Linked DNA regions of Homo sapiens. The main gene of each other region encodes a partner of the protein of the gene in region 3 in a complex. Each region holds a gene or a part of one and is shown on either strand. Other genes may lie near its edges. The genes, in order: SNRNP200, PRPF31, SART1, SNRPE, PRPF8, PRPF6 and LSM2.

Region 1 (3,500 bases), on a different chromosome or scaffold from region 3:
TAAGCACTCCTCCCATCTCACTAGGGTCGGGCCTCCTTTCCCCAGGATGCACACAGCACACAGGGATTGAACTGTTCAGGCCCCTTCTCACAGCTGCCATACAACTCCGCTCTCACCTGTGTGACATACACCATGTCAGCCATCAGTGCAAAGCCCTCCAATTTCAGCTGTGAGATGAAGGCTTGCAGAAGAACGTTGATCTGTAAAGAAGCAAAATCAGCCAGCAGGAGACCAATCACTGAACAGTCCAAGAAAGGGAATTACATTTCTGCTCTGAGCATCCAGGCCAGGTGAGATTTGCTACAGGTCTTGATTTACAAATACTAAATAATTGTTATTTCATATAAAAAGAACATGCGAGAAGGCTGCAAAAACTAGGAGAACTGAGCAGGAAACCACACATGAACCCAAATTCAAGGTTCATCTTTTAGAAGATTATGAAAACCACTTAATCCTCATCCTTATCAAAGCAAAGAGGAGAGGAGCTCACCTTAGCACTGGGTTCCTCAATGCTCTCCTTTACAGGGATAGGCACCCTCTCCAGCAACTTCTGCAGCTCCAGCTTCTCCTCCTGCCACAAGGAGGAAAAGGTCAAGGGAAAGCCTTGTGGCCGAGGAGGGACACCATTCAGTGACTTGGTGAGCACCAACTCCCCGCCCCATCATGCTGCATAGGCTCACCTCTCTCACTGTGATGTTCTTGAACTCAGAGGACAATGAGAAGACCCTGAAAAGCTCAATCTCACTCAGGGTGGGCTTCAGCAGCTGGTTGTAAGTCTGCACTGTATCATTGGTGATGTAGTAGTGGCTGGCTATACGGCCCAGTTCTGTCACCTGGAGAGAAGGTAGACTCAATCCAGTGCTGACTATTAATGAGCTCCAACCTCTAACTGTGGACCATAAGTTACTGTCCTATAGGTTTTTTGTACTTTTTTTTTGGTAAAGTATATGACCCAATGTCATTATTGTCCTAATAGGACAACTGGATGAAGTCACAGCAGTACAAGTGCCAGGCCCAGGCACATGAAGAAAAACAGCAGAATAAGCTGACCCATAGTGAAATGATGTCTGCACGGACAAGACAGCTGAATTATCCACCTCAAGTTATGGGAAAAGCTACCCATTTTTCTGCTGTTCTAAGCAACAGGTGATTAGATAGGCAGTACTCACATCAAGAGAGCAATCTGAAAAATTTTTTCCTGGGCCAACAACTTTTGCTGAGACCTTTGCCTCAAAACCCTCACCCCACGCACCTGGAAGTTGCCCGTCTTCTTGTCGTACTTGACCAGATTGTTCTTGTCCAGCATCAGGGCAGCTGTATGAACCAGATCTAGTCGGCGCTGGTCCAGCAGGGGATCTCCCTTGAGGTCATCATGAGAGATGCCATAGAGGGTTGGGGATCGCAGCATTCGGATATAGAGGTAGGCATAGCCCAGCCAGTTCACCGCATCCTACAAGACACAGCTCATGGTTCTTAGCATGGAGAAACTCTTGATGTCCAAATGACAGGCTCCCATGAATTGCTTAGAAATTAATTCCCAACTACAAGGATGCATATTACATCGTATTCTGAATGTTTTTAGCATTTCATTATTAAAAAGATCTAAGCGTCTTCTAAGATCTTGGTAACAAGGGGAACTATCTGCCAGACCCAAGATGTGGGTGCAGGGATGGAAGGCCTCGGACGCTGCTGGCCCGCAGCACAATAGGGACCGACCCACTCCTGGTGCCTTGGTGTCTGCGGGGAAAGCATGAAGCACAACAAGCAGTCCTCCCCTACCTTGGCATTCTGGACATTTCCTAGCACGATTTCTGCATTGAGCATGTCAGGAAGCTTTGAAACCATCTGGCTTTCAATAGGAAGTTGTTGATTGAGGAGGGACAGGTAGTACTGTAGCTCCCCATGAGATGTGATGAGTATGCCTTCACCCTTGGTGTCATACTGGGGTCTTCCGGCACGTCCCAGCATCTAGATCAGAGACAGCGAACCAAGAATGCTATGTCAAGAGAATGTCTGAATTTTGATGCAGGTATCTACATTACAGAACTAGACCTCTGATCTGCTAGCTTTCCAGCATCCCTGCATTTCAGGCAAGGATACTGATCCCTGCTGAGAATAAACTCAAAAGGCTCTGTACCTGCAGAATGTCCAGTGCTCCCAGTTCTGTCCAACGCCCCTTCTCTGGACTGTACACCTGGGTGCCTTTGATGATGACTGTATGTGCAGGGAGATTCACACCCCAAGCTAGAGTTGCTGTGGAAACTAAAACCTACAGAGGCAAAACAAGGTAATGAGGAGAACAGATGCCATCACCAGGGGTTAATATCCCTGGCTTCTCTAGGCAGTTGGCCTCAGAGCTTCTCTCAGGACTAGCCGGTAGGGCGCGTGGGGTCCCAGTACTTGTCAATGTGACACCAGAATAAAGAGGAAAGGTTTCCTTGGGTTCCTCATCTATTCAGTAATGAACATTTCAAGGTTCCAGAGGCACAAGTGCAGACTTGTATTAAACAACCTTAAAGTTACTAGAAAAGGTAAAACAGAGCCTATCCGGAAAGAGGGAACGACAAGGGCACGCGTGCCCCCATGAGACACTGTTTGGAGCTATCTGAAGTCACCAAAGTGCTTGCTTCACTATGCTTCTCAGACTATCCTAAACTCAAGCAAGGTGGGAAGAGTTGGGAGAGTAGCATAAGGTTCTATTTATTGTGTCCACCACAACCCTCTGACCTGGGCTAGCTGGGCCAGAAGCAATAAAGTACCAGGAGCAAACATGGCACAAACTTGACATTGCCCATCTTCTGAAGTATGTCCCACCTGCTCCTCCAAACGCTTTGCACCCCCTCACCTGAATATGTTTATCAGCAAAAAGATCCTCCACGAGTGTTCGGTCAACCCTGGTCATGCCTGCGTGATGAATAGCAAAGCCATAAGGCAGAAGATCCTTCAGCTCTAGGTTCTGTGGAACAAAGAACCGGGGATGAGGCGAGCCTTCCTGTAGGACTCATCCAAGGACTAAGGAAATCTCCTCCCATGAGACCCTGCCCCTTAACTATTATGTGGAATAGTAATAATCACATCCAGACAATCAACCTTAACCCATGGGAAACAACAATACCACAGTACAGTCCTAGAGGAGCTGTCTGGGGCCTGAGATGGACACAGCTGCCAGGTAGGAATGAGAGAACCCAGCTGGCCCCTCCTCACCTTGCACTGCTCAGCTTCTGTTCGCAGGACTTCTGTGGAGGCTGAGCCCTCCCTCAGAAACAGACCCAGAGTGTCCTTTTCTAGGCACATGTCCCGGATGGCCCTGGCTGTCTTTCCAGTCTCCTTCCGGGAGTGGACAAACACCAGCACCTAAGGAGAAGCCACAGTTTGCTACAGTCACGAGATACTCACAGCCCCAGGGCACCTGCAGCAGGAAGCAGAAGTTGCACCATCACCACCAGAAGCCAAGGTCCTGGAGAGGGGCAAGGGCAGGAATGTGTGCAGGCTCAGAGGAA
Region 2 (3,500 bases), on a different chromosome or scaffold from region 3:
AGCAAGGCGCTTCTTTTCTTTAAGAACATGTCACTGCAGCTCACGTTTTACAGACCAGAACTAATTCCCCTGGTCACACCTAGCGGTAAGGACGGCTGAGAAAGGCTGTATGCTGGTGCCCGTGTGCCAGGCCACAAGCCAGGGCTTCAGTTACTAAAGGAAGAAGGGGACATGGGTGTTAGGGCCAACCAGCAGAGTCTACCTTCCATCTCACCCGACAACCTCCTGTCCCGTTTACCCTAGACATCATCCATAAGTTCATCCGGGATAAGTACTCAAAGAGATTCCCTGAACTGGAGTCCTTGGTCCCCAATGCACTGGATTACATCCGCACGGTCAAGGTGAGCGCAGAGAAGGTGGGGTGCTTCTGCTGGCGTGAAGGGGCAGGCGGGGCTCACTCTCGGACCCCCTCCCAGAGGCCTGAGGGTCTGGAGACGATGGAGAGGAGTGGACGAGGGCTCAGTGGTCTGCTCTGCCCAGCGTGGGAGGGACGGAGCCTGGACAGGACTTTCTCAGGGCTCCCCTCCAACCCCAGTCTCCCGAGAGGGCTTCCCCGCTGGCCTGACCCACGCTGCTCCCGCTGTGGTTGGAGCCGGTGGCATTGGAGTTGACATCCGAAGGTTGACACAGGGCAGGCACACGGAGATTTGGGGGAGAGAGACGTCTAAGTGCAGAGAGCTGGAGAGGGAACAAGTGGGGAGGAAGTGAGGCGGGGAAGGAGGGGACGGGGAAGAGGTCGGATCACGTCCAGCCTTTGGGTCTTAGGAGAAAGCCAAGGAAGGGTTTCGGAAAAGAGGGGCAGGTGTGCGTGAGGGCGGGGAGAGGAGGAGGTCCCCACGCATGTCCAGGAAAGGATTAGGATGGCGGTGGGGAAGCCCCTGCAGGGAAGCGAGGCCGCGGATTTGCACTCCGACTTGACGCAGGCCAGAGGCTTGTGAGGCCACAGTCTTTCCAGACGCCACTCTGCCCGGGCTCCGTTTCCAGGTCAGCGAAAGCAGGGCAGATGGTGTGGATGCTTGACGTGGTGGAGGCAGGAATGGTGTGGATGCTTCAGGCGGTGGAGGCAGGAGAGGCCCCCAGTGCAGAGACCCTGACTGTCCCAGTGTCCCTAAGAAGAGACCTGAGGAGGTGCTGAGCAAGAGAGGTTCTCGAGCCTTCCTGAGTTCCCGAGCCTCCCCTATCTTCTCTGCTCGCCCCCAGGAGCTGGGCAACAGCCTGGACAAGTGCAAGAACAATGAGAACCTGCAGCAGATCCTCACCAATGCCACCATCATGGTCGTCAGCGTCACCGCCTCCACCACCCAGGGGTATGTCCGCTTCGAGGGAGGCGCCGGGCCCTAATGGGATTGGGGATTAGGCTGGAGCTACACACGCAGGTGTACACACGCACACACACATACACACATGCACACACACACACAGAACCGAGAGGGCTGGGGCTGGGCACACCAGGCAGGCGGGAGACCCAGGAGGCTGGGCCCACCCGCCCCTGCAGGCAGCAGCTGTCGGAGGAGGAGCTGGAGCGGCTGGAGGAGGCCTGCGACATGGCGCTGGAGCTGAACGCCTCCAAGCACCGCATCTACGAGTATGTGGAGTCCCGGATGTCCTTCATCGCACCCAACCTGTCCATCATTATCGGGGCATCCACGGCCGCCAAGATCATGGGTGAGTCCCCGGGCTGGGTCCCATGGAGCGGGGGTCTGCTGACACTGTGACCTTGGGAAAGCTACATCCTTTTCTGTAGAATGGGGGCTTTGGCACCTGGACCTCAGCACCCCGTCTCCCTGGACATCACAGAGGTCAGCCAGCCTGGCACACAGCAAAGCCTCATCTGTGGGAAAAACACTCACCCACAGCTCCTTCTCCCTCCCCTGTGCCGGAAACCCAGAGATGACCACACCCAGGCCCTGTTGTCAGGGAGCTCCTGGTTTGGTGAAAATGGTTCCAAAACACAGCCATCCCTGGAACGGCGTTAGTGTGGCTTAGCACAAACGTGGTGGTCAGCTTCCTGTTGGGGGCCTCCTCCCTGCACCCCCAGGCCAGCTGCCCTCCCTCTCTGAGCCTCCTTTGCATCTGCCCCTTGCGGAATGGGCCAGGTCGCCCGCCTGGCAGGGCCATCGAGGAATCCAACCAGAACTTCATGTAAAGGTGCCCAGCACACGTCGAGCCCCCAGGCAGATTTACTCACCCCCACCTCTCTGCTTTCTTCTGACCGCCCCCCCTTCCTCCCTCCCTCCCACCGCAGGTGTGGCCGGCGGCCTGACCAACCTCTCCAAGATGCCCGCCTGCAACATCATGCTGCTCGGGGCCCAGCGCAAGACGCTGTCGGGCTTCTCGTCTACCTCAGTGCTGCCCCACACCGGCTACATCTACCACAGTGACATCGTGCAGTCCCTGCCACCGGTGAGCCCACTGCGTCATGGCCCCTCCCCCGGCCCCCCTGGAGCCTTCCGCTGTGCCCAGACAGCCTGAGCAGCCACCCACCATCTGGCCCAGCTGACGGTAGCACTCAGGAGCTGGGAACAGGGTGGCATGGGACGTGAGAGCCAGGGCTCTGCAGCAGACCAGCTCCAGCACCCACCAGTCAGGTGACTGTGGGCAAGAGGCATGAGCGCCCTGTGCCTCAGTCTCCTCCCCTATCAAATGGGAGCACAGCGCCTGCTTCATGAGTTGGGACGAGGGCTCAGTGCACATGAAGCACTTACAGTTCAGGCCTAGCTCACGACAAGCAGCGTCGGGTTAGCGTGCAACTGCTCCGAAGACCACCCTCAGGTTTGACCATTCACTAGAAAGACTCACAGAATCCACTGAGGGCTGCACATCAGCCATGGGGAGAGACACACAGGAGGGGCAGGAGAGGTCACCAACCTCGGAGCTTCCCGGGTCCTCTCCCTGCAGTCGGGACACATCACCATCCCAGCATCGACGCCTGACAGCACACACACAGGCCCGCTAGCCTGGCGGGGCGCAGTGGCTCGTGCCTGTCATCCCAGCACTTTGGGAGGCCGAGGCGGGCAGATCACCTGAGGTCAGGTGTTCGAGACCAGCCTGGCCAACATGGTGAAACCCCATCTCTACCAAAAATACAAAAAACTAGCTGGGTATAGTGGCACACACTTATAATCCCAGCTACTTGGGAGGCTGAGGCAGGAGAATCGCTTGAACCCAGGAGGTGGAGGTTGCAGTGAGCTAAGATCATACCACTGCCCTCCAGCCTGGGTGACAGAGTGAGACTCTGTCTCAAAAAAAAAAAAAAACAAGCAAGACAGGTTCTGGGACAGACAGGCCTGGGTCCAGACCCTGCTCTGTCCAACTGTGGCGAGTTACCTCAGGCTCACGGCCCTGTGCCCTGCCTGGCCTCCCCCAGGGATGGGGAGAACAATAGCACTGATGGCCAAGGCTGGGCAGGCACTTCCTGGCCCCACCCCCCAGCCCTGTGTGGGGTTTTTTTTGTGGTCTTTTCTGCGACCCTTTAGGTCAGGCACTGCTACTGGAACACA
Region 3 (3,500 bases):
CACCGTGCCCAGCCCTCTATTCTGTTTAAAGTCATGTTTTGCAAAAATTTTTAGATGCCTGCTTTAGTAGGGGATCCTTTCCTTGCCTCTCTCTTCTGTGCATGTTTGTTGAATGCCTGCTGTGAGTAGTGCATTGTTCTTGGGCTGAGAAGGTCATTGGTGAACAGGATAGCCATGGGGCCCTGGGCTCATGGAGCTGGCTTTCTAGAGTGTGTGGGGGAGAGCGTGGGGAGCAGCAGTGACTGTTAATGCAGGAACGGTAATTTCTGATGGTGGTGGGAGCTGGGCACTCAGTAAACCAAGATAACGTGCCGGGGGTTGGGATCTTAGATGGGAGAGTGCAGGGAAGACCTTTCCAAGGTACTAGTTCATCTGAGACTTGAGTCACACAGAGGAGCCAGCCTTGCGGGGGGTTAGGGGTGGCAGCAGGTGGACAGGCTGGCATTTAGGCAGTAGACCAACCAGCAGGTGTCTCAGGAGAAGTGACCTTAGAGTGCCTGAGGGCCAGGGAGGCTGGAGCAGAGCAGAGAGTGAGGGGTGGCGTGAGCTGAGATGGAGAGGTAGGGGGCCAACGCAGGGGGAGCCTTGACCCCATGGTCGTCGCTGCCCCAGAGGCACAGTGGGCCGGGCACTGCTCACATGTTCTGTGTTTGTTGATTCATTCCATCCTCCCAGCAACACCCTATGAGGAAGGTTCTGTCATCTCCATCATTCCAGAGGCCACACTTTTAGCCCTACCCCACACTTCTCACCTAGGAAGAAGCCAAGAAAGCGTGTCCAGGAGAGGGAGCAAGGGAGGGAAGCTTCTGATACTACTGGGAGGCAAAGTGGGGACAGTTGCAGTGGATTCAGGACCCGGAGGACAGGGGAGTTGAAAAAGTGAGGGCTGAACCCGGGACGGAGGCCAGGCTTACTGTTGAAGGGCTGGAGAGGACGTATTTGAGGTTTAAGGGCATATGGTCTCTGTTAGGCACCTTGAATGCTGTGCTGTTATAGGGAAAACAGCCAAGACAGTCTGTAAGTGAGTGGGCGTGGCTGGGTTCCAGTAATACTTTATTTCTAAGAACAGGTGTTGGGACATAGTTTGCCCGGCTAAAAAGGAACAGAGAAATGGAGCAATAGGCTGACAGGGCTGTTTTATGACTGAAATGAACATAAGGGTTTCTAGCCCCGTGGATCTCAGCCTGCCTGCACATTAGACTCACCTAGGAGGTTGTTTTTGTTGTTGTTTTAAGAAACAAGGTCTCGCTCGGTTGCCCAGGCTGGAGTGCAGTAGTGCAATCATAGTTCACTGCAGCCTTGAACTCCTGGGCTCAAGGGATCCTCCTGCCTCAGGCTCTCAAGTAGCTGAGACTACAGGCGTGCGCCTGTGGGTCTCAGTGTGTTGCCCGGGCTGGTCTCAAATTCCTGAGCTCAAACGATCCTCTCGCCTCCACCTCCCAAAGTGCTGGGGTTACAGGCATGAGCCACCAGGCCTGGTGTAGCCTAGAAAGTTTTTGTTGTTGTTTGAGACGGAGTCTCGCTCTGTCACCAGGCTGGAGTGCAGTGGCGCGATCTCGGCTCACTGCAACCTCCATGTCCCGGGCTCAAGCAATTCTCCTGCCTCAGCCTCCTGAGTAGCTGGAACTACAGGTGCATGCCACCACGCCCAGCTGATTTTTGTATTTTTTAGAAGAAACAGGGTTTCACCGTGTTGGTCAGGCTGGTCTCAAACTCCTCACCTTGTGATCCACCCTCCTCAGCCTCCCAAAGTGCTGGAATTAGAGGCATGAACCACCACACCCGGCCACCTAGAAGGTTTTTTAAACATATGAGCCACACCCCACACACTGTGCAGGCAAAAAAGTGGAAAGCCTATCACAGTGAACACCTTTGTCCTCTAGAGTCAGTAATTATAAACATTGTTACAGTTCTTTTCTTTCTCTTCTTTTTTTCCTGACCACTGGGAGTTGCAGATATCATGACACTGCATCCTTAACGACTTCAGTAGGCATCTGGCGAAATCAGGGCCTTCTCCCGCATAGCCACACTGCCCTAACAAGCCCATAAATGCTGTAAAACAGCAGCTCGCATGCCAACATTTTCCAGTTATCCCCCAAAATGTCTTTTTAGTTTTTTGTTGTAAGCAGCATCCAATCAAGTTTCCCACCCGCAAAGGAGCCTTTTCTGACTACCGGAGATTCTAGAGTATGTGGGAGACACATTTATGACGGAAGAAGAAAAAGATCTCGGCAGGCGGTGCTGGGGCCTAGAGTGCAAGTGGAGGGTGGGCTTGAGTGAAGCCAGCTCGTGTCATCATTTATTTCAGGAGGGAAGGTGGGGAGGGCACAGCAGCTGTGGGTGACCTTGTTTAGGGGAAGTCAAGGCAGCCCATGGCCGATTGTTCTGGTGTTTTTCCAGTGAAGAGGTGGCAGAGGTGGTGGTGCAAAGAGATGGGAGATGCTGTTCTGGAGAGTGGAGAGCAGATACACCCTGGGAGAAGAGCAGGCCTGCCAGTGGCAGTGTGGATGGTGGGATTCATGAGCTGAGGAGGGGGATGGTGGAATTCATGAGCTGCTGAGGGAGGGGGATGGTGGGATTCATGAGCTGAGGAGGGGGATGGTGGGATTCATGAGCTGAGGAGGGGGATGGTGGGATTCATGAGCTGCTGAGGAGGGGGATGGTGGGATTCAGGAGCTGAGGAGGGGGATGGTGGGATTCATGAGCTGAGGAGGGGGATGGTGGGATTCATGAGCTGAGGAGGGGGATGGTGGGATTCATGAGCTGCTGAGGAGGGGGATGGTGGGATTCATGAGGTGCTGAGGAGGGGGGTGGTGGGATTCAGGAGCTGAGGAGGGGGATGGTGGGATTCATGAGCTGAGGAGGGGGATGGTGGGATTCATGAGCTGCTGAGGAGGGGGATGGGATTCATGAGCTGCTGAGGAGGGGGATGGTGGGATTCAGAAGCTGAGGAGGGGGATGGTGGGATTCATGAGCTGCTGAGGAGGGGGATGGTGGGATTCATGAGCTGAGGAGGGGGATGGTGGGATTCATGAGCTGAGGAGGGGGATGGTGGGATTCATGAGCTGCTGAGGAGGGGGATGGTGGGATTCAGGAGCTGCTGAGGAGGGGGATGGTGGGATTCATGAGCTGAGGAGGGGGATGGTGGGATTCATGAGCTGCTGAGGAGGGGGATGGTGGGATTCATGAGCTGCTGAGGAGGGGGATGGTGGGATTCATGAGCTGCTGAGGAGGGGGATGGTGGGATTCATGAGCTGAGGAGGGGGATGGTGGGATTCATGAGCTGAGGAGGGGGATGGTGGGATTCATGAGCTGAGGAGGGGGATGGTGGGATTCATGAGCTGCTGAAGAGGGGGATGGTGGGATTCAGGAGCTGCTGAGGAGGGGGATGGTGGGATTCAGGAGCTGAGGAGGGGGATGGTGGGATTAATGCCCTGAAGCAGTGGATGGTGGGATTGAGGATTGGGTTTTCTAGGGAGGAGGGACAAGGCAGTTAAGGG
Region 4 (3,500 bases), on a different chromosome or scaffold from region 3:
GGGCAAGGTGGCTCACGCCTGTAATCCTAGCACTTAGGGAGGCCGAGCATGATGAATCACTTTAGCTCCAGAGTTCGAGACCAGCCTGGGCAACATGATGAAACCCTGTTTCTACCAAAAATACAAAAAGTAGCCAGGCATGGTGGTGCGCCCTGTAGTTCCAGCTACTTGGGGGGAGCTGAGGCAGAAGAATTGCTTGAACCCAGGAGGTCCAGCTGCAGTAAGCCGAGGTTGCACCACTGCACTCTAGCCTGGAAGACAAAGTGAGATCCTTTCTCAAAAAAAAAAAAAAAAAAAAAAAAACTTTGGGTGGAAGGTGGGGTGGGGCTTGAGAAGAGTGAATCTTTGAAGTTAGTTGGAGTTTTTATCTGCATAGGTATACTCATTTAAAATGGTTTGAATGTGATTTTCTTTGAAGATAACAGTTTGTTTATTTTTCTAGGGTTTTGATGAGTATATGAACCTTGTATTAGATGATGCAGAAGAGATTCATTCTAAAACAAAGTCAAGAAAACAACTGGGTAAGGATAGAAGTGGTCTTACAGAATTCTAGAAATATTTTATTCACTTGCAGAATTCAGTGACCTGCAACTCAGTTCATGTTTGAATTTATTTTGCATTTGAGAAGTTATTATTCAGAGTAGTAGTACACTTTTGAAATCATCCTCTACTACTCACTCCTCACCACACTCCATTTTGGCTTCTCCACCCAGAGAGCTCTCACCAAGGGAACCAAAGACTAGTGGTATTAAATCTAATGATCAGTACTAATCCTCATTTTATTAAACTCTCAACAGCATTTGGCACTGTTGGCTGCTCCCTCCTTAAAGCGCTTTGTTCCCGTGTCTGAGTGGCAGGAAAAACCCAAGTAGATTTTTCTGTTTCCTCAGTTGACAATAATTAACACAGAAGACTTCTGTGACCAGATGTATGGGCATATTTCCCCACACACCAAGCAAGCAATCAGTTCGGCAGTGGACATCAGCTCAGAGTCGTCAAGTTCAGTTCAGTTCTAACACTATCTACCTGAGATAGCGTCAGTTCCCAGAGGTTGAGGGCTCAATCCCCAAGATTGCCTTCCATGCCCCTCAGTCCTCCACCAGATGCTAATTGTCAGCTCCAGATTGTTTTACCTGTGCTTCTTACTGACTGGCTATAAACTGGGTCCCATGACCCCTCCGTTGGTTTGATTAATTTGCTAGAGCAGCTCACAGAACTCGGGGAAACACTTGTATTTACTGGTCTGTTATAAAGGATATTACAAAAAGTACAGATGAAGAGATGCGTAGGGCAAGGCATATAGGAAGGGATGCGAAGCTTTTGTGCCCTCTGCAAGCTCACCACTCTGGGAACCTCCACATGTTGAGCTATCAGAACCCCATTGTTTTCAGTTTTTATGTAAGCTTCATTATGTAGGCATGACTGATTAAATTGGCCGTTGGTGATCAGCTTAACCTTCAGCTCCTTTCCTCCTCCCCGGGTGGGAGGGTGGGGCTGAAAGTCCGACATCACTAATGCCTTGGTCCTTTCAGTGAGCAGCTCCCATGCTGAAACGTTGTAGGGGCTGCTGGCCATCAGTCAATCATTAGCATACAAAAAGGCAACATCTTAGAGATTCTAAGGATTTTAGGAGTTGTATGGGATTGAAGACCAAGTAAATATTTTGCAGTATCACACCTTGGCTCTACGATATTATACTTGGGTTTTTATTTTTCACTTCTGGCTATTTTTCAGACTTATATATTCATTCTTGGGACCCAATCACTAAATGAGTTGCTCCAGGCTTGGTTCTAGGCCCTCCTGTCATTCAGTATTGTCTGCCTAGGCACTGGAGTACAGCTTCAGTTACCATCTATAAATACTGACTCCCAAATTTGTTTGTCTGGGCCTATTCACCATTTCTACTTGAATGTTTCAAAGGCTTCTTAAAGTCAGCATATCAGAAAGCAAACTCAATTCCAACTCACACTGTTTAGAGCTATTGTATTATTATTTCCTGCCTTATTGAATGGCACCAGTTTCCAGTTCAGCTTACTAATTGATTTCTCTGCAGCTACCTCCAGTTTGCTTTCCAGGCCTCACTCATCTTTTAAAAACACCAGTCTGAACATATGTCATCCCTTTGCTTGAAATACTGCAATGACTTCCTGTTGCTGTTAGGATAAAAAAAAATCTAATGATTCTGCAAATCTAATGATCTTCATGATCTAGTCTTATCTCCCTCTGCTCATCTCGTATCACTGCCTCACTTTCTGAGCTTTAGCAACACTTGTCTTATTTCAGTTCTTTGAATCTGCAGATTTGCCCAACCATTAATCTTTGTATATGATATTCCTTGTGTCTGTAGAGCTCAGATCAAATATCACTTCTTTTAAGACAGCGGTCCCCTAGGCCAGGTGCAGTGGCTCACACCTGTAATCCCAGCACTTTGGGAGGCCGAGGCGGGTGGATTACGAGGTCAGGAATTCAAGACCATCCTGGCTAACATGGTGAAACCCTGTCTTTCCTGAAAAAAAAAAAAAAAAAAAAAAATTAGCTGGGCATGGTGGCGGGTGCCTGTAGTTCCAGCTACTCGGGAGGCTGAGGCAGGAGAATGGCGCGAACCTGGGAGGCGGAGCTTGCAGTGAGCTGAGATCACGCCACTGCGCTCCAGCCTGGGCGACACAGCGAGACTCTGTCTCAAAAAAAAAAAAAAAAACAGTGGTCCCCAACCATTTTGGCACCAGGGACCGGTTTTGTGGAAGACAATTTTTCTGTGGACTGGGGTGTGGGGGATGGCTTTCGGATGATTCAGGCACATTACATTTATAGTGCACTTTATTATTATTACATTGTAATATATAATGAAATAATTATACAACTCACCATCATGTAGAATCAGTGGGAGCCCTGAGCCTGTTTTCCCACAACTAGACAGTCCCATCTGGGGGTGATGGGAGACAGTGACAGATCATCAGGCATTAGGTTCTCATAAGGAGTGCGCAACCTAGATCCCTCTTTGCCCGGTTCACAATAGGTTTTGCGCTCCTATGAGAATCTAAGGCTTCCACTGATATGACAGGAGGCAGAGCCCAGGCGGGAATACTAGTGATGGGGAGTGGCTGTAAATACAGATGAAGCTCCGCCACCTCGCCCACTGCTCACCTCTTGCTGTGTGACCCAGTTTCTAACAGGGACCAGGACTGGTACTGGTCTGTGGCCCAGGGGTTAGGAAGCCCTGCTCTAAAAAGTTCAAAGTTTAATTTGGTTTTGCTGGGGATGGGGGAAGGCGGGATTATGTGCTCCCTGAGTTTGTAGTAAAACCTTTATTATTGAAATTATTTTATTAGTGTCTCTCCTGTTATCAGATGCTTCACCGTAAGTGTATGAGTCATGCCTTTTTTGATCCCAGTGTGCTCAGTACCTAACTCAATGCCTGGCACATAATAGAAACTAAAAAATATTTGAACAATGAATGGTATTTCTTTCTTTTGTTTTTGGAGACAGAGTCTCTGTCGCTC
Region 5 (3,500 bases), on a different chromosome or scaffold from region 3:
TCCTTAGTGATATTTTTTGTATACTTCTATCGATTACTGAGGAGTATTAGAAATCTCTAGTAATCCCAGCAGTTTGGGAGGCTGAGGCTGGTGGATTGCTTGAGCACAGGAGTTCGAGACCAGCCTGGGCAACATAGCGAAACCCCATTTCTACAAAAAAAATACAAAAATTAGCTGGGTGTGGTGGTACACGCCTGTAGTCCCAGGTGCTTGGGAGGCTGAGGCGGGAGAGTCTCCTGAGCCTGGGAGGTGGAGGCTGCAATGAGTGGAGATGGTGCCATTGCACTCTAGCCTGGGCAACAGAGCAAGACCCTGTCTTGCTTGAGAGAAAGATCCAACTACAGCTGTGAGTTTATTGTCTTTCAGGTCCATCATTTTTGAAATTCTGTTATTAGTTACATAATGTATTTAGGATTATTAGGTCTTCTGAACGAGTTGACTACTTTATCGTATCAAATATCCCTCTGTATTCCTGATAACATTCCATGGTCTGAAGTCTTTGTCTTAATCAGTAGTGCCACTCCAGCTTTGTTTTGTGTTTGCATGGGTGTATTTTTCCATCTTTTTACTGTTAATCTGTGTCTTTGTAACTAAAGTTTATTTCCTATAGACAGCATATAGTTGGCTCTTTTTTTTTTTTTTTTTTTTTTTTTTTTTGAGATGGAGTCTCTTCCTTGGTTGCCCAGGCTGGAGTGCAGTGGCATGATCTTGGCTCAGTGCAACCTCTGCCTCCCGAGTTCAAGCGATTCTTCTACCTCAGCCTCCCAAGAAACTGAGACTACAGGCGCGTGCCACCACGCTCAGCTAATTTTTGTATTTTTAGTAGAGACGGGGGGTCTCACCATGCTGTCCAGGCTGGTTTCGAACTCCTGACCCCGAGGCCCGCCTCAGCCTCCCAGAGTGCTGGGATTACAGGTGTGAGCCACCATGCCCGGCCTTTTTATTTAAATCCAATTTGACAATGTTTGCCTTACAAATGGTCTAAATACCTCAATTAAGGTTAATGTAACTATCAATGTGGCAATGTAGCTCAGTTTAAATCTACCGTCTTACTCTTTTTTTTTTAAATTATTTTTTCTGCTTTTCTCTTGTCCTGCCTTCTTCTGAATTTAGTTGTTTTGTGACTTTATCTCCACTTTTCACTTATTTGGCTACATGGTTTTTTTCTTATTGTTTGCTCTAAGGTTTACAGTATATACATAGCTCACTTACTGTGATCTACTTTGACCATTAGTCTACTACGGATCACTTCACATATAGTACAAGAACCTTAGAATAATACACTTTAAGTTCCACTCCCACTCTTAGTAGTATTTTTGTCATAACATTTTAATTGTACATGTATTATAAGTGCTATAATACTTTGTTACTCTTTTTGCTTTGAACAGCCTTTATCTTTTGTAGAAATTGCAAAATGAGAAAAAATATTTTTTTGCATTTTACCCACATACTTACCATTTCTGGTGTTCTTCACTAGTTTGTATAGCTCCATCTGGTGTGCTTTTTTTTTTCTTTTTCTTTTCTTTTTTTTTTTTTTGAGACACAGTCTTGCTCTGTCTCCCAGGCTGGAGTGCAGTGGTGCGATCTCAGCTCACTGCAACCTCTGCCTCCTGGGTTCAATTTCTGTATTTTTAGTAGAGACGGTTTCATGTTGGCCAGGCTGGTCTTGAACTCCTGACCTCAGGTGATCCACCCACCTCGGCCTCCCAAAGTGCTGGCATGACAGGCGTGAGCCACCACACCTGGCCCAGGGGAACCATTTTTTTTTTTTTTTCCCCTGAGATGGAGTCTCGCTGTGTTGCCCAGGCTGGAATGCAGTGGCACAATCTCAGCTCACTGCAACCTCCACCTCCCAGGTTCAAGCGATTCTCTTGCCTCAGCCTTCTGAGTAGCTGGGATTACAGGCGTCTGCCACCACACCCGGCTAATTCTTGTATTTTTAGTAGAAACAGGGTTTTGCCATGTTGGCCAGGCTGGTCTCCAACTCCCGGGCTCAAGCAGTCCTCCCACCTTGGCCTCCCAAAGTGCTGGGATTATAGGCATGAGCCATCGCGCCCAGCCTCATTGTGTTTTGCTTTCTATTTCCCTAGTGACTAATGATGTTGAACTCAAATCTTTCTTTAGTAGTAGGGATAAAACTAACTGCATCAAGTAGTCTCCACCCTCCCCGCCCCTGGCTCATCTGTAATTTACTTTTTTTTCTACTACCTTTAGATTGTGAATAAGTGGAATACAGCTCTCATTGGCCTTATGACATACTTTCGGGAGGCTGTGGTGAACACCCAAGAGCTCTTGGACTTACTGGTGAAGTGTGAGAACAAAATCCAGACACGTATCAAGATTGGACTCAACTCCAAGATGCCAAGTCGGTTCCCCCCGGTTGTGTTCTACACCCCTAAGGAGTTGGGTGGACTCGGCATGCTCTCAATGGGCCATGTGCTCATCCCCCAATCCGACCTCAGGTACAGCCTGGTTCAACGTATTTCTAAACCCTATTGCTCAGGCCCTAAGGGAAGTGGGTATTTCTTTAGTTTTAGGCTTTATTTTTTCTGTAATCTTGGTTGTACACCCAAACAGGTGGTCCAAACAGACAGATGTAGGTATCACACACTTTCGTTCAGGAATGAGCCATGAAGAAGACCAGCTCATTCCCAACTTGTACCGCTACATACAGCCATGGGAGAGCGAGTTCATTGATTCTCAGCGGGTCTGGGCTGAGTACGCACTCAAGAGGCAAGAGGCCATTGCTCAGAACAGGTGGGCACCTAGGAGGGCATGCCAACCCTGGGGCAGGGGCAGTGGTGGCCTTTGAACCGTGTGGAGTTCAGGGTCAGAGCATGCCATGGTTGTATGGAGGTGAGAAGGCTGGTTCTACTGACCCTAATTATTTTTGGCCAGGAAGGAGTGCTGAGCTCCTCATATGAGATCACGTTTTGACTTGAATCTTTCTTTTTTTGGAAGACGCCTGACTTTAGAAGACCTAGAAGATTCATGGGATCGTGGCATTCCTCGAATCAATACCCTCTTCCAGAAGGACCGGCACACACTGGCTTATGATAAGGGCTGGCGTGTCAGAACTGACTTTAAGCAGTATCAGGTATGTAGAGGGAGCAGATTTTCCCTGAGTCAGGAAAATCCATGGCTATCCCCGAAACTTGGGGCAATAGGCACCCAGAAGCTTGACCGTGCCTGCCTTGCCATCTAGGTTTTGAAGCAGAATCCGTTCTGGTGGACACACCAGCGGCATGATGGGAAGCTCTGGAACCTGAACAACTACCGTACAGACATGATCCAGGCCCTGGGCGGTGTGGAAGGCATTCTGGAACACACACTCTTTAAGGGCACTTACTTCCCTACCTGGGAGGGGCTTTTCTGGTGAGGATTCTCCTCTCTTAGAGGGACCTGTCACAACCCTTTGAGCTCATCTCTTGTATGCCTCTGTGATTTCCTGTGGTGTTTCCCAGACAGCCACCTCCAGGAGGTTAGCAGTGTGCTGGGAA
Region 6 (3,500 bases), on a different chromosome or scaffold from region 3:
GCCTGGCTAAGTTTTTATTTTTTGTAAAGACAGGTTCTCCCCAAGGCTGGTCTCAAACTCCTGGGCTCAAGTGATCCTCCCACCTCAGCCTCCCAAAGTGCTGAGATTACAGATGTGAGCCACTGTACCCAGCCCCAAAAATAGTTTTCTACTTCACTTAGAAAAATCAATTTAGGCCGGGCACGGTGGCTCATGCCTGTTAATCCCAGCACTTTGGGAGGCCAAAGCGGGCAGATCACCTGAGGTCGGGAGTTCGAGACCAGCCTGACCAACATGGAGAAACCCCATCTCTACTAAAAATACAAAATTAGCCGGGCATGGTGGCACATGCCTGTAATCCCAGCTACTAGGGAGGCTGAGGCAGGAGAATCGTTTGAACCTGGGAGGCGGAGGTTGCGGTGAGCTGAGATCGCGTCATTGCACTCCAGCCTGGGCAACAAGAGCCAAACTCCGTCTCAAAAAAAAAAAAAAAAGAAAAAGAAAAGAAAAATCAATTTATTGGATCTGTTCAACTTCACTAAAATGTAAATTATTCTCTCAAAGCCCAGGGGACACAGTTTAGAAAATCTTACGTATAAATGGGGCCAGACGTGGTGGCTCACGCCTGTAATCCCAGCCCTTTGGGAGGCTGAGGTGGGCAGATCACTAGAGTTCAGGAGTTTGAGACCAGCCTGGTACACATGGCGAAATCCTGTCTTTACTAAAAATACAAAAATTAGCTGGGTATGGTGGCAGGCACCTGTAATCCCAGCTACTTAGGAGGCTGAGGCACAAGAATTGCTTGAACCTAGGAGGTGAAGGTTGCAGTGAGCTGAGACCACGCCACTGCACTCCAGCCAGGGCAACAGAGCCAGACTGCCTCCAAAAAAAAAAAGAAAAAAGAAAAAAGAAAATCTTAGGTATAAATGGAGTCAAAATTACAAAGAAAATAAGTTCATTTGTCCTACCTTTTACAGTAGGGGAAGGGTTTTTTTTTACACACATATAATTAAACATACTGAAGCAAACACTTTCTTCTTCTAAGCAATGACCCCCTAAATTAAAAACGTAAAGTCTCATAAATTCCACGTAAGAGCAGTCTGAGTCTCTGCGGGTTAGGGTGAGAGCGTTAGAAACCGCACACCATTCACCGCTTCATCGGCTCACCTTGAGGTCTGAGAACTGCTGTTGGATTTTGGGGCGTTCCATACGATATTTCTCTATTTCTTCTTTCTCCCTTTGCTCCCTAGGAAATAAAACATGCACACATCAGAAACACTGCATGTCTGTTCTGAAGCAAATTTATTATCCATCTCAATTAAATCACCAAAAAGAACAATTCCATACTCTTAGTAGCTAAATCAAATATATATATATATATATACATATACACACACACACACACACACACACACACACACACACATTTTTTTTTTTGAGATGGAGTCTTGCTCTGTCACCCAGGCTAAAGTGCAGTGGCGCAATCTCAGCTCACTGCAACCTCCACCTCCTGGGTTTAAGTGATTTTCCTGCCTCAGCCTCCCAAGTAGCTGGGATTACAGGTGCTCGCCACCACTCCCAGCTAATTTTTGTGTTTTTAGTAGAGACGGGGTTTCACCATCCTGGCCAGGCTGTTCTCGAACTCCTGACCTTGTGATCTACCCACCTTGGCCTCCCAAAGTGCTGGGATTACAGGTGTGAGCCACCGCACCCAGCCCAAATCAAATATATTTTAAGGTAACTATGAATACATTCTTAGCTGGGCATGGTAGCACACACCTGTAATCACAGCTACTTGGGAGGCTGAGGCAGAATCATTTGAACCCAGGAGGCAGAGGGTGCAGTGAGCCAAGATCGCACCACTGCACTCCAGCCTGGGCAACACAGAGAGACTCTGCCTCTAAATAAATAAATATAAATACATTCGTAAGTCTACTAATTCAATTATCCACCAAATAAAAACATGTAGAAATTCATTAAAATAAAAAAAAAAGATCTTACTTTGATCTAAATACCTCCATTTGGACATGTGTATATTTACTGCTTGAAAATTCACAAAATCCCAAAGGTAGGACCATCCCATAAACACCTAAGAAGGCCAGGCGTGGTGGCTTACACCTGTAATCCCAACGCTTTGGGAGGCCGAGGTGGGCAGATCACCTGAGGTCAGGAGTTCAAGCCTGGCCAATGTGGTAAAACCCCATCTATACTAAAAATATGAAAATTAGCCAGGCGTGGTGGCGCATGCCTGTTATCCCAGCTACTCAGGAGGCTGAGGTAGGAGAATTGCTTGAACCTGGGAGGTGGAAGTTGCAGGGAGCCAAGATCATGCCATTGCACTCCAGCCTGGGTGACAAGAGTGAAACTTCGTCTCAAAAAAATAAAAATAAAAATAAAAATTAGCTGGGCATGGTGGTGGGCACCTGTAATCCCCAGCTACCTGGGAGACTGAGGCAGGAGAATCATCTGAATCCAGGAAGTGGAGGTTGCAGTGAGCCAATCTAGCCTGGGCGACAGAGCGAGACCTTGTCGCAAAACAAAACAAAACAAAACAAAACAAAAAAACACCTACAAGGAAAAACAGTAACTATCCTAGTTACCACCAAACACTCCAAACACTCTACTGAACTCATCCCACCTTTCCTTCCTTGCTTCCTTCTCTTCCAAGTAAATAGTTCACCTCTAACCAACTCAGCTCAGCTGCACAGCTCTATGTGCCAGAACATAACCCATGTAATTGCACTTCGGTGTTGAGACTACATGTGAGGATATGGTATTCACAGTACTGTTCTTCCTACTTGTTTGTATTACGACAGTTTTCAGAATAAAAAGTTTTAATAAGTACACTACTTTTTTTTTTTTCTTTGAGACAGTCTCACTCTGTCACCAGGCTGGAATGCAGTGGTGCGATCTCAGCTCACTGCAACCTCCGCCTCCTGGGTTTAAGTGATTCTCGTGCCTCAGCCTCCTGAGTAGCTGGGATTACAGGCATGCACCACCACACCCAGCTAATTTTTGTATTGTTAGTAGAGACGGGGTTTCACCATGTTGGCCAGGATGGTCTCGATCTCCTGACCTCATGATCTGCCCGCCTCGGCCTCCCAAAGTGCTGGGATTATAGGTGTGAGCCACCGTGCTCGGCCAAGTACACTACTTTTTAAAAACATTTAATTTAATGGCTTTCTTCATGGGTCCGTGTCACCTGCTGTTTTTTGTTTTGTTTTTGTTTTAGAGACACGGCCTTGGTCTGTTGCCCAGGCTGGAGCACAGTGGCATAAGCATAGCTCACTGTAGCCTCTAATTCCTAGGCTCAAGCGATGCTCCTGCCTCAGCCTTGGGAATGTAGCTGGAACTACGGGCATGTGCAACTGGCTAATTTTAATTTTGTTTTTGTAGAGACAGGGTTTCACCATGTTGCCCAGGCTGGTCTCGAACTCCTAGACTCAAGTGGTCCTCCTGCCTTGGCCTCCCAAGGTACTAGGATTACACATGTAAGCCACTGCACCCAGCCTGATGTTTTT
Region 7 (3,500 bases), on a different chromosome or scaffold from region 3:
CGCTGGGTTTTAAAGACTTTCAGAATTTTACAAAAATTGGGGCAGAGAACTGCCAACTTTATTTTTGGCAAGATAAGGACGTTTTTAAAACTGCTATTTATTACGATTATTTTTATTTATTTATTTTTCTTGAGATGGAGTCTCACTCTGTCACCCAGGCTGGAGTGCAGTGGCTCGATCTCGCCTCACTACAACCTCCACCTCCCGGGTTCAAGTGATTCTCCTGCTTCAGCCTCCCGAGTAGCTGGGATTACAGGCGTCTGCCACTATGCCCAGCTAATTTTTTGTATTTTTAGTAGAGATGGGGTTTCACGATGTTGGCCAGGCTGGTGTCGAACTCCTGACCTCGTGATTCGCCCGCCTCGTCCTCCCTAAGTGCTGGAATTATAGGCGTGAGCCACCGTGCCCGGCCACAGTTATTTTATTTTATAACTTTAAAATAGAGATGAGGTCTTGCTATGTTGTCTGGGCTGTTCTCCAGCTGGCTTCAGGCGATCCTCCTGCCTCAGCCTCCCAGAATGCTTGGATTATAGGCGTGAACAACCATTCCCAGCCAAAGGCTGTTTTTTTAAATTTTTGCACCATTCTCTCAAAGAGCACTGGTGTTTTGATAGCATTCCTCAAATAGCATTTCAAGGGGCTCGAGGATTGGGGAATGGAGAGGACATCACTCATGCCTGCATCATCAAGAGTAATGCTACCTACCTTTATCCACATATGGGCTCTGGTTCCAAAGCAATAAATGTTTGAAAATAGCTAGCCTGGGTGACATTCACAGTGAGACCCTTTCTCTACAAAAAAAAAAAAAAAAAGTCGGGAATGGTGGCTCATGCCTGTAATCCCAGCACTTTGGGAGGCTGAGGTGGGCAGATCATGAGGTCAGGAGATCGAGACCATCCTGGCTAACACGGTGAAACCCCGTCTCTACTAAAAATACAAAAAATTAGCCAGGAGTGGTGGCCGGCATCTGTAGTCCCAGCTACTCGGGAGGCTGAGGCAGGAGAATGGCGTGAACCTGGGAGATGGAGCTTTCAGTGAGCCGAGATTGTGCCACTGCACTCCAGACTGGCCGACAGAGCGAGACTCCATCTCAAAAAAAAATCAGCTGGGCATGGTGGCTCAAGCCTGTAATCACAGCTACTCAAGTGGCCACAGTGAGCCATGATCACGCCATTTCACTCCAGCCTTGGCCATAGAGTGAGACCCTGTCGCAAAAATAAAAAAAAAATAGCTGATGGTTTTGGGAGTCACACAGACTTGGACTGAAGTTCCCATTTGTTCTAAACTCATAAAGTTTAAAACAACCTCTCTGAGCCCCTGGAAGGTAATAACTACTTTGAAAGATGGCTGTAAAGATTACAAATACTATATAGAATACAGGTCTAGCCTTTACCAGTTGTTTAATGGTAGCTGTTAAGAATAGGTTGGTTTGGCCGGGGACAGTGGTTCACACCTGTAATCCCAGCACTTTGGGGAGCTGAAGTGGGCAGATCGCCTGAGATCAGGAGTTAAGGAACAGCCTGGCCAACATGGTGAAACCCCATCTCTACTAAAAATAAAAAATTAGCCGGGCATGATGGCATGCGCCTGAAGTCCTAGCTACTCAGGAGACTGAGGCAGGAGAATCGCTTGAACCTGGGAGGCAGAGGTTGCAGTGAGCCAAGATCACACCACTGCACTTCAGCCTGGCTGACAGTGAGACTCCATCTCAAAAAAAAAAAAAAAAAAAAAAAGAATGGATTGGTTTAGGGAGAGGAGATGTGGGGTTGAAAATAAACTACTCTGTTAGTTGTCTTTCCTACTCCAGGGCTTAGGAATGCCCCCTTTTGGTTCTACCTTTTCTGACATCCTCAAGTCCTTGACTTCTCCCAGTCATGTTCTCATCCCAGCTCTGAAGTCACCTCTATGTTGACTTTGTTATAAACTAATTTGATTCTTCTCTCCCTCTGCCCTTGACAGCATCTGTGGAACCCTCCATTCTGTGGATCAGGTGAGATATAGCACGGGCCCCAGAATTGGTTCCTGGAGAAGGAGAGGGGAGACTTAAGGGTTGGGTTCTTACATCATGTCTCTAGGGTTAATAATGGTGTTCGTCGGCCAGGCACGGTGGCTCACGCCTGTAATCCCAGCACTTTGAGAGGCCGAGGCCTGAGGTCAGGAGTTCAAGACAAGCCTGACAAACATGGTGAAACCCCGTCTCTACTAAAAATACAAAAAATTAGCTGGGCGTGGTGGTGGGCACCTGTAATCCCAGCTAGTCGAGAGGCTGAGGCAGGAAAATCATTTGAACCCAGGAGGCGGAGATTGCAGTGAGCCGAGATGGCACCATTGCACTCCAGCCTGGGCAACAAGAGCAAAACTCTTGTCTCAAAAAAAAAAAAATAATAATAATAATGGTGTTCATCTTCCTTTCCTAGTATCTCAACATCAAACTAACTGACATCAGTGTCACAGACCCTGAGAAATACCCTCACATGGTGAGTTGGGGTCTGTGGAGAAGAGGAAACACCTCTAAAGCAGGAGGCCCCTGGGTGGTTAGAGGACATTTTTAAGGGTGTTTTCATATTTGTCCATCTTTGTCTAGTTATCAGTGAAGAACTGCTTCATTCGGGGCTCAGTGGTCCGATACGTGCAGCTGCCAGCAGATGAGGTCGACACACAGTTGCTACAGGATGCGGCAAGGAAGGAAGCCCTGCAGCAGAAACAGTGATGGCTCCTCCTCCTCTTCCCCTCCCTCTTTCATTGGTGACCCATAACCCCAAGTCCCAGCCCAGAACCCCTAACCCCCAATACTTGAAGGGGTTTTGTTTTTTTACTAATGATGGTTTTGTGGGTTTTTTTTAAGGGATGAGTGGATGAGAGGAGTAATAGGGAACAGCTATCCTCTCTTGAGAAGGGGAGGATAAGTAGGCTGGGAAACTTCAAAGCCTTCCCAGTCCCCAGCACCTGCCTTTCTCACTACTTCTCTGGAGATGGTAGGAGAGTTTCCTAGGTCTTTCCAGGGCAGCATGTGATTCATTTGGGGATGGAAGGAATCTGTCCCGCATCGGGAATAAAATTTATGATGCAAATTTGTGTTTTGGTTCTGTTACTATGTGTTGGGCAGGGGGCTGGGACATGGAAAAGGATGTCGAATTCATCCAAGCCCCTGTTACTCTGCGTTAACCCAGCCAAGAATCCAACTCAGCTTCCCACTACTCTCCTTGGTATAAAGCATATAATACAGTTGCTCTACACCATGTTTCCCCAACATGTCCCTACCTGTATGTTCTCCCTGTGGCCTTTTGCTTATACCATACCTGCAACTGGAGTGCTTGCTGTCCTTCCATTAATGTGATAGTGTCATAAGATACATTTCATGCTACCAGACTTCACCAATCCAACCAAATCAGTTCATGTTTTCTGAATATGTATAGAAGATAAATACAAGTGATGTAATTTATATTTTAGAGAAAAGTTGTGACTGGGAATTACTAAACTTCATTCACTCATTCAGCAAA

Evidence for each region.
Region 1: SART1 (region 3) and SNRNP200 share a complex: the UniProt entries of both Homo sapiens proteins name them as parts of the U4/U6-U5 tri-snRNP complex.
Region 2: SART1 (region 3) and PRPF31 share a complex: the UniProt entries of both Homo sapiens proteins name them as parts of the U4/U6-U5 tri-snRNP complex.
Region 4: SART1 (region 3) and SNRPE share a complex: the UniProt entries of both Homo sapiens proteins name them as parts of the U4/U6-U5 tri-snRNP complex.
Region 5: SART1 (region 3) and PRPF8 share a complex: the UniProt entries of both Homo sapiens proteins name them as parts of the U4/U6-U5 tri-snRNP complex.
Region 6: SART1 (region 3) and PRPF6 share a complex: the UniProt entries of both Homo sapiens proteins name them as parts of the U4/U6-U5 tri-snRNP complex.
Region 7: SART1 (region 3) and LSM2 share a complex: the UniProt entries of both Homo sapiens proteins name them as parts of the U4/U6-U5 tri-snRNP complex.

Annotation. Positions count from the first base shown.
Region 1 is NC_000002.12:96,288,547-96,292,046, forward strand, and holds part of SNRNP200 (U5 small nuclear ribonucleoprotein 200 kDa helicase), read right to left. Parts: intron 3,355-3,500; coding exon 3,205-3,354; intron 2,957-3,204; coding exon 2,846-2,956; intron 2,270-2,845; coding exon 2,138-2,269; intron 1,969-2,137; coding exon 1,780-1,968; intron 1,451-1,779; coding exon 1,253-1,450; intron 834-1,252; coding exon 681-833; intron 572-680; coding exon 491-571; intron 201-490; coding exon 117-200; intron 1-116. UniProt on the Homo sapiens protein: Catalyzes the ATP-dependent unwinding of U4/U6 RNA duplices, an essential step in the assembly of a catalytically active spliceosome. Plays a role in pre-mRNA splicing as a core component of precatalytic, catalytic and postcatalytic spliceosomal complexes.
Region 2 is NC_000019.10:54,122,254-54,125,753, forward strand, and holds part of PRPF31 (U4/U6 small nuclear ribonucleoprotein Prp31), read left to right. Parts: exon of another isoform or gene 1-153; intron 154-238; exon of another isoform or gene 239-243; coding exon 244-341; exon of another isoform or gene 342-389; intron 390-1,200; coding exon 1,201-1,307; intron 1,308-1,495; coding exon 1,496-1,665; intron 1,666-2,245; coding exon 2,246-2,403; intron 2,404-3,500. UniProt on the Homo sapiens protein: Involved in pre-mRNA splicing as component of the spliceosome. Required for the assembly of the U4/U5/U6 tri-snRNP complex, one of the building blocks of the spliceosome.
Region 3 is NC_000011.10:65,968,234-65,971,733, forward strand, and holds part of SART1 (U4/U6.U5 tri-snRNP-associated protein 1), read left to right. Parts: intron 1-3,500. UniProt on the Homo sapiens protein: Plays a role in mRNA splicing as a component of the U4/U6-U5 tri-snRNP, one of the building blocks of the spliceosome. May also bind to DNA.
Region 4 is NC_000001.11:203,864,599-203,868,098, forward strand, and holds part of SNRPE (small nuclear ribonucleoprotein E), read left to right. Parts: intron 1-442; coding exon 443-521; intron 522-3,500. UniProt on the Homo sapiens protein: Plays a role in pre-mRNA splicing as a core component of the spliceosomal U1, U2, U4 and U5 small nuclear ribonucleoproteins (snRNPs), the building blocks of the spliceosome.
Region 5 is NC_000017.11:1,660,868-1,664,367, reverse strand, and holds part of PRPF8 (pre-mRNA-processing-splicing factor 8), read left to right. Parts: intron 1-2,214; coding exon 2,215-2,462; intron 2,463-2,577; coding exon 2,578-2,757; intron 2,758-2,961; coding exon 2,962-3,097; intron 3,098-3,205; coding exon 3,206-3,375; intron 3,376-3,500. UniProt on the Homo sapiens protein: Plays a role in pre-mRNA splicing as core component of precatalytic, catalytic and postcatalytic spliceosomal complexes, both of the predominant U2-type spliceosome and the minor U12-type spliceosome.
Region 6 is NC_000020.11:63,991,132-63,994,631, reverse strand, and holds part of PRPF6 (pre-mRNA-processing factor 6), read right to left. Parts: intron 1,226-3,500; coding exon 1,147-1,225; intron 1-1,146. UniProt on the Homo sapiens protein: Involved in pre-mRNA splicing as component of the U4/U6-U5 tri-snRNP complex, one of the building blocks of the spliceosome.
Region 7 is NC_000006.12:31,796,967-31,800,466, reverse strand, and holds the end of LSM2 (U6 snRNA-associated Sm-like protein LSm2), read left to right. Parts: intron 1-1,959; coding exon 1,960-1,990; intron 1,991-2,417; coding exon 2,418-2,477; intron 2,478-2,584; coding exon 2,585-2,710; 3' UTR 2,711-3,071; downstream 3,072-3,500. UniProt on the Homo sapiens protein: Plays a role in pre-mRNA splicing as component of the U4/U6-U5 tri-snRNP complex that is involved in spliceosome assembly, and as component of the precatalytic spliceosome (spliceosome B complex).